Homo sapiens: one gene and its partner. The protein of the gene in region 1 interacts with the protein of each later gene in a pairwise test. Each region holds a gene or a part of one and is shown in the gene's direction. Other genes may lie near its edges.

What was found.
Region 2: the proteins of KCTD5 (region 1) and CD1A interact in a two-hybrid assay, tested with the Homo sapiens proteins (one large-scale study listed by BioGRID and IntAct).

Annotation. Positions count from the first base shown.
Region 1 is NC_000016.10:2,692,322-2,696,127, forward strand, and holds part of KCTD5 (BTB/POZ domain-containing protein KCTD5), read left to right. Parts: intron 1-3,613; coding exon 3,614-3,722; intron 3,723-3,806. UniProt on the Homo sapiens protein: Its interaction with CUL3 suggests that it may act as a substrate adapter in some E3 ligase complex. Does not affect the function of Kv channel Kv2.1/KCNB1, Kv1.2/KCNA2, Kv4.2/KCND2 and Kv3.4/KCNC4.
Region 2 is NC_000001.11:158,252,961-158,257,314, forward strand, and holds the start of CD1A (T-cell surface glycoprotein CD1a isoform 1 precursor), read left to right. Parts: upstream 1-1,463; 5' UTR 1,464-1,709; coding exon 1,710-1,767; intron 1,768-2,123; coding exon 2,124-2,390; intron 2,391-3,043; coding exon 3,044-3,322; intron 3,323-3,825; coding exon 3,826-4,104; intron 4,105-4,354. UniProt on the Homo sapiens protein: Antigen-presenting protein that binds self and non-self lipid and glycolipid antigens and presents them to T-cell receptors on natural killer T-cells.

The DNA of each region.
Region 1 (3,806 bases):
GAAGAGAAGCTTTACCAAGTGTTGGGACAGTGCAGAGGAGACTGTGGGGGCAGCTCCTCTCTGTAGGCAGGTCGGCTCATTCAGTTGGCAGCTCTCAGCAGAGAAGCGGCCCCGGACTGGCTGGCTCCTCTCCATTGACTTCCCAGCTCTCAGCAGAGAGGGTAGCTTCCCTCTGCAGCTGGTCTTCCACTTGCCAATTGTCTCTGTCCTCTTTGTCCTCTGCCCTGCTCTGGCTGAGCCCAGGGCTCTTATGGACCCAGAGGGAAGGAAGTGCATACTAATTGGTTCATGGGCAGGCCCGGAAAACGCACCACAAGTCCCCACTTTGGTCCCCGGGACTGGCAGCCCGGCCCCAGCCTTCATGCCCTCCCTGGCCTGAAGGTGGGGCCTTACCGGGGACCTACCCCCTTCTTCCCAGGAATCTATCTGCCTCCTGCTGCCATACATGGCGCCTGGGCTCGGCCCCAACTTTGCTCCAAGATCGGAGCAGGCACCAACAATAGGAGTAAGCCAGGCAGTGAGAGCAGGCACTTCTGAGCCTGCAAGGGCCCGGCAGAGGGGCCTTTCTGGGCCCCCAAGAGTGCAGGGATGCCTGAGGCTGTGGTTTGGGCAGCTGCAGTTGTGGGCCTGCCTGCTCCGTGGAGCGGGAAGCCCGGGTCTGCAGCCATAGTTTGGGTGGGGCGAACCCCAGGGCTGCAGCCCCAGGCAGCCCCACGCAGATCCTCCTCCCGAGGCCCGGGAACCTGACATCTTCAGTGGGGTGGGTGTGATGGCTGTGCCACTGGCTGGGTCCTCACCGCTGGTGCCACTCTCACTACCCACCCCAGGCCCCCGAAGCACAGCCCCAGCTCTGCATCGGGGCCCCTCTCCACCCAACCATGCTGCTCTCCTGCCATGCTGAGGGCAGTGGGCTATGGTGTGGGGAGTGGGGTCTGTTCGCCTCCTCCCTGTTCCCTCCCTGCAGCGGCAGGTATCACGTGATGGCAGCAGCTGCACCAGTTGGCCTGCTGCTGGCATCACCGCACTGGGCCAGCTGTGGCCAGACTGAGGTCAGGAGTTCCTTCAAAGCATCAGCCACAAAAGCTGCCTCCTAAAGGGGGTGTTTAATGGAAAAGCCAGCCCCGCCCAGTGGTAGGAGTGGCCAAGACACGGCAGCGGCCTACCCCTGCCTGCCCGTCTTGAGGCCGAGCCCAGTGCCAGCACGCTCAGTGCCCTGCCGGCTCCTTGGACCTGTCTGTGTTCCTCTGTCCTGCTGTGCAGTTTCCGCCGATGGCCGTCCCCACCCTGCCCTCCTTCCCTCCTGCCTTCATCCTTCCAGTTGCAGGGCTGGGGTTGCCTCGTGTGTCTGGGGGCGCCCAGCACGCTTCCTTCTCCTCTTGCACCGGCCCAGGGCCTGAGAAGCACATGGTGGGTTGTCTTGGCCTAGAGGTCACGGCTCAGTGCCCAGGTCCTGCCACAGGTTGGGTGCCCTGGCACTCATGGCGGCCCCGAGCTACACGAGCTGGTCTCCCCCACCTTTTGCTCGTAAAGAAACTGAGGCTTGGGGTGGCCTGGCTGTGAGCCTGCAGTCTGACCACTGAGGCCAGGCCTGGAGGCCTCCATGGCTGACAAAGGGGTTCTCTGGGGTTGTCCTGGGCAGAGGCGAGCCTCCGCCCTATCTGATCTTTCCTGACCTCCTGCCAGCGGTCTGTCGAGGTAGCAGTGAGCCGTGAATAATTCCTGAGCTGAGCGGTGTGCGGACGTCACGCGGCCAGCATTCTCTCTGTATGGGGGTGGGGCAGGGAGGAACCCTGGACTCGGGTGGCAGCACTGGCCGCCTTGCCAGACTTGGGCCCCTTTGTGGGAAATGGTGTCCATTTTTTAGCAGTTGCGCAGGACCGCCCAGCGTCCTCTTCCCGGGAGCTGGCCCTGTGGCCCCGGCCCTTGCTTGAGAGCTGTGGAGTCTGGAGGGCTGGGGAAAGGCAGGGCCAAGCCCAGGAGGCAGGGCCTGTGGGGTGGGCAGCTCTGGCTGGAGTGTTCCGGGGGAGGGTGGGGAAGGAGGATAGGGTCAGGTCTGTGTGGAGCTGGGGTCACCCTAAGGAGTAGGGGGGCCGCCGAGGCTCCGGGTCCAGCGCCCCCATGCCCGGAGCCCTAATTGATTTTATCTCAGCCACAAAACTCAGTCCCTGTGATCTAAAAAGAGCAGGTTGTTGCAGGTTTGCGGTGGTGGACTTTGGGAAAATCTCTTGAGACCACTAGGTCTTAGCACCCAAATGGCAGAATTTGTCCATGGATGAAAATAGGGTCCTAGCGTGGCCCCGTGCTTTGTGGTGGAGACACCTTCGGCCTCCCCATATCTGCGAGCCTGGCATTCCCGTGGCCAGCGCCTGCCCATGGCCCCACAGGAGCCACCATCTGGTGAGGGGGCTGCTCCTGCTCCGAATGGGGTGTGGGGTTGCTTCTCCAGCGCTTGGCCCTGGGCCTCGCCGGGGAGGCTGCCGGTGTTTCTGAACGGAGGCCTCAGCTCCCCGGCCTCCAGGGCACCCGCAGGCACCAGCCCCTGTGGGAGTGGCTCGCAGGTGGGAGCAGGACCCTTGCAGGCATGTGGGGGGAGGCAGGAGCTGCCCCAGCAGAGCCACACGGAAGGTCTGAGTCTGTGTAGAAGACAGGCTGTGCCAGCTTCGCAGTCCCCCCATCAGATGTGTAGCCGACAAGACAGAAACTGCCTCTTCCGTCTCCCCCATGGGGGCTGCCTGGGGCGTCTGAGCCCCCGTCCTGTGTTCACGGCCGGGCCACTGGGGCTCTTGTGCTTTGTGGAAGGGGCTGCAAGGTGTGATGTGTGGGGCACCCCGGGCCTCAGAGGGCATCTGCCCACATTGAAGTGGCCGTGGTAGCAGCAGGGGCAGTGCCTCTCAGGGGTCCCTCCACCCAGGTGCGTGAGGACACCTTCCGAGGGGTCTGTTTTGTAAACATCTCGGCCTCCGTGAGCGCTGAGCCGGGGCGAGGGCTCTGTGAGGTGAGTGATGATCTTGGGGAAAGCCCCGGATGCTGTTGAGTGCCGGTCACTGTGGCCTCCCTCGCTGCTGGCTCCCGGCCTGTTGGGCAGCCGCCCCTGCTGAAAGGTGCCCTCTCCACCCCTGGCAGGAAGCCCCTGTCACCCTGACCCCCGGTTCCTGCATGTAGGCTGCGGAGGACCCGGGCACGAGGAGCGCAGGCCCAGGCTGGTGGCCATCAGAGGTGTCCTTCTGAGGCTGAGCCCTAGGCCCCTGCCCTGCCCGCGAGGGCATCTCTGGGTGAGGTTTTCGTGTGTGTTTTCCTAGAGGTCTTGCAGTTGTGAGGACAGAGGTCCAGGGCACAGTGGGCTCACCTTGGAGTACGCAGAGCCAGGCTGCCTCCGTACGGAGAGACTTAAACTCACTTAGACCTGGGGTGGTGGCTGGTCAGGGTTAGGCTGTAGGCGGCAGGACGTGGCCACACCGTCAGGGGTTTCCTGAGATGCCGCAGGCTCAGGTGTGCTGGGGAGAGGCCTGGGTAACCTGGTGCCTCTGAAGCCTCCTGAGGTGGCCGGGCCTTGGTGGACCTGCAGGAACCTTCGGCTTCTCACGGAGGACTCACCGTGCTCTGCTCTCTTTAGGATGAAACAGGCGCCTATTTAATCGACAGAGACCCCACCTACTTTGGGCCTGTGCTGAACTACCTGAGACACGGCAAGCTGGTGATTAACAAAGACCTCGCGGAGGAAGGTAAGCCGAGTTTTGGGCACAGGTGCCTTAGCTTTGGGGGCAAGGGCCCGACAAAGGTGCCAAGGGCTCCACTTAAGACACAGA
Region 2 (4,354 bases), on another chromosome or scaffold:
GTGGCTCATGCCAACAATCCCAGCACTTTGGGAGGCTGACACAGGAGGATTGCTTGAGGCCGGGAGTTGGAGGTTACAGTGAGCTATGATTATTCCACTGCACTCCAGCCTGAGTAACAGAGTGAAACCCTGTCTCAAGAAAAAAAATTTTTTCCCCCTAAATTAGCTTCAGATACTTTTTTTTTGAAAACCAAAAAATAGTAAATAGCCCAGACACATTTATATGGATGATATCTACAAAGCACAAACATATATTTAGAAGCCCTTCAACAGTTACAAGCAGCGTAAAAGAGGAATGTAAATGTGTCCGGCAAAGACTCATTTATAACAAAACAACCCTGAAACATCCAAATAGGACTAATAAAAAGGGATCCTGGGATAAAGACTTTGGAATACTCCATTAACTTCACTGCTCACAAGTTCTGACTAGTTTCTTATAAGTAATAGGACATTTATAGCAGGATCTTTTATGTAAATCTCATGCCAGTAACTTGTACTTTTATCCTAAATAAAACTGTATGAGATTCTCATCTCACTACATAGGGTTACAAGTAACTTTTATGATATCTTTAAAAAGTTTCATGTTGAATATCACCTCCATAATTAAAAAATGGATGCATAGACTGAATTCATTCATTCATTTGACAAATATTCACTAAGCACCTACCACTTGTGAGATACTCTGTTAGGTGGGGATACAGTATGATAACTGTATGGAACTAACACTCCAAGTCAAACATTGAAGTCAAAATTCTGGGCTGGCGTACATTAGTTAGGAGCCCCCATTTTAGAAAATATTATTTCAAGCAGGCCTTGTTTTTATCCAGAGAGTGTATACAGTATAATAAAACTCAGTACACCAAGATTTATATTTCATGGCGTGTTTTTCTCCCTAAGTAGAGAAAAAGCTCCTTCAGTAAAGTGATTGTGTTGTCAACCACTGCATATTCTTAAGTGTACCAAGATGCTTGACTCCAGGCAGGTGCTAAGAGAGACTGTTGGGTGAGTGAATGTATATCAATGAAAATCAAACAGAGGAAATTTTCTTTATATGTTTTAGTGTTCCTGTGGTTTTTTTTTTTTTTTTTTTTTTTTTTTTTTTTTTTTTTTTTGTGATGGTTACTGGCTCTTCTCTAAGAATAATGGAGAAAAGGTGTTAGTTTGTACTGTCGCACAGGGCAGTCGTAGGAGACTCTGAAAAAGCAAATAAATCAATGTTAAATCAGAAATGTGAATGTAGTAAGGGGCTGAAGAGACAGGGGAAGAGAATACATGGGAAAATATTGAAAAGGACAGAGTGATCAAAAAGAGCAGGGACATGGGAGCATTGGGCAGCACACTGGGAGCCATTTCACTTTATGCTCTTATTGTATGATTGAGAAAAAAATGTCCTTAGTGGTTAAGTGGCTTTTCAATGCCACATCAGACTTGTTCCATAGCAGTTGAATTAGGGGAAGGTGAATAAGTTGGAGGTTGGTGACAAGGAGAGAAGCTGGAACAGAGAGGAGAGTCAGAACCAGAGGGAAATGAGAGACTGAGTAGGCATCTCAGGGTTTTTGAAGGAGTGGATTTTCTTTGTTGCAGTCAGGGGAGGTTTGTCTGTTGGCTGCAGAAAGAAGTCAGAATAGAGATATCGTGGGGTAGGTTTGTTTGGAACAGAAATCAAAGACCAATTTTTCTGAGAGAAGGAAATAACATCTGCAAATGATATGCTGTTTTTGCTACTTCCATTGTTAGCTGTTCTCCCAGGTGATGGCAATGCAGACGGTAAGAACTCTGACAACTGCCCAGTTGGGTGGTGGGTGAAGGTCTCTCTCTCTCTCTCTGTGTGTGTGTGTGTGTGTGTGTGTGTGTGTGTGTGTGTGTGTGTGTGGTTTCCCTAGCATATACCTGGAAAGTGAGAGTGCCAGGCTGGTTCCATTCTGACTATCCATGACTCCAGGTCCCTGAGCTCTTATGAAGGTGGTTGATAAGGCATGGGACTGTGTGGCAAGTGAATGTCTGCTAAGATCATGATGGATCCCCTTTTCTCCAGATTCTGAGTTCCCGCACTCTGGCACCTTTCTCTCTCCATCCTCTTTCTCAATGTCTTTCTCCCCATTCTATCTGTTCTTTTGTCGCAGGGCTCAAGGAGCCTCTCTCCTTCCATGTCACCTGGATCGCATCCTTTTACAACCATTCCTGGAAACAAAATCTGGTCTCAGGTTGGCTGAGTGATTTGCAGACTCATACCTGGGACAGCAATTCCAGCACCATCGTTTTCCTGTGCCCCTGGTCCAGGGGAAACTTCAGCAATGAGGAGTGGAAGGAACTGGAAACATTATTCCGTATACGCACCATTCGGTCATTTGAGGGAATTCGTAGATACGCCCATGAATTGCAGTTTGAATGTGAGTTCAGTTTTCTCCATGGAGAGTGGTGAGGTGGGAGAGAGGGGTTGTCTCAATGTTTCTTATTCCTTTAGGAAACAGCCTGACTCTCTTCTGTATCTTATTCTATTCTTTCCACCATAAAACTGCAATTGCATACTTTTGGGCAAGGGCTATCATCCAGACCTTAATTCTCCAAACACTTCTGCTACTTATGAACTCCTCTCTCATTGATTGCAGGGTTGTGCATTATTATCTTTTCTTACAGGTATCCCAGGACCACCCTTCTGCCTGCCCTACAACCAGATACCTTCAGCTTTCTCACTTTCTCATTCATTCTCTTCAGCAGTCTCTCTATATATACTCAATTGTAACCCATTGCATTTAATTCAACCTAAGTTGTTATAATCCCAGTTCTCTTACACCAGGTCCTTGCTCACCCACAGCATTCACATCACCTTCTTTGACCAGTTTGCCCTCTTCCTCATGTTATTAATCTTTTCCTCCACCTACAGCTCCCACCAATTCCTCTTTCTCTGAATCCCTGACCAAACCAAATTTTATTCCATTATGTCAAACCCTGCACACTTCCCCCTTCTGCTTCTATAATCTTTGCTTCTACTCATTTCATTTTATATTTTTTTCTCCCTCTTTCCTCTATTTCATAACCCCAGATCCTTTTGAGATACAGGTGACAGGAGGCTGTGAGCTGCACTCTGGAAAGGTCTCAGGAAGCTTCTTGCAGTTAGCTTATCAAGGATCAGACTTTGTGAGCTTCCAGAACAATTCATGGTTGCCATATCCAGTGGCTGGGAATATGGCCAAGCATTTCTGCAAAGTGCTCAATCAGAATCAGCATGAAAATGACATAACACACAATCTTCTCAGTGACACCTGCCCACGTTTCATCTTGGGTCTTCTTGATGCAGGAAAGGCACATCTCCAGCGGCAAGGTCAGTCCTGCACTCTCCCTCCAAGAAGTTTTGATTTGAAAATCATACCCTTCCACCACCTCCTTCCAATTTAGAATAAGGAAGAGCCACCCAGAAGTGGGAAAGGCTGGGTGCAGTGCCTCACATCTGTAATCCCAGTACTTTGGGAAGCTGAGGCTGGAGGACTTCTTAAGGGCAGGAGTCCCAGACCAGCCTGAGCAACAGAGTGAGACCAGTGTCTCTAAAAAATAAAAATAAGTTAGCCAGTCATGGTGGTACACACCTGTAGTCCCAGTTACTTAAGAGGCTGAGGCAGGAGGATCGCTTGAGCCTAACAGTTTGAGGTTACAGTGAGCTATAATTTATAATTATGCCACTGCATTGCAGCATAGTGACAGAGTGAGACCCTGTCTCAAAAAAAAAAAAAAGAGAAATGGGAACAATGTGTCTATCTAAACTTCTAAACTGTTGTGGAGATATGAAACTCCAAGTCTGTATTTGAATATCTTTTCTGTCCTTTGCAGTGAAGCCCGAGGCCTGGCTGTCCCATGGCCCCAGTCCTGGCCCTGGCCATCTGCAGCTTGTGTGCCATGTCTCAGGATTCTACCCAAAGCCCGTGTGGGTGATGTGGATGCGGGGTGAGCAGGAGCAGCAGGGCACTCAGCGAGGGGACATCTTGCCCAGTGCTGATGGGACATGGTATCTCCGCGCAACCCTGGAGGTGGCCGCTGGGGAGGCAGCTGACCTGTCCTGTCGGGTGAAGCACAGCAGTCTAGAGGGCCAGGACATCGTCCTCTACTGGGGTGAGAAAAAGCTAAGGCCCAGGCTGGAAATGCCAGGAAGTGGACCTCAGGCATAGAGGGAGGGCAAGCTGAAAATTTTAGGATTTTAGGGATTATAGCCCAAACATGAATAAAAATAGATAATCTAAGAAATGGAAATGTTGAAAATGAGGGCCCTGTAGATGCAGGAGGATGCTGAGGGTTAACTGAAGAATCCATCTCTGAGCAGGGATGAGAGAAAAACATAGAAAAAAAGGAGATTGGTAAGTTG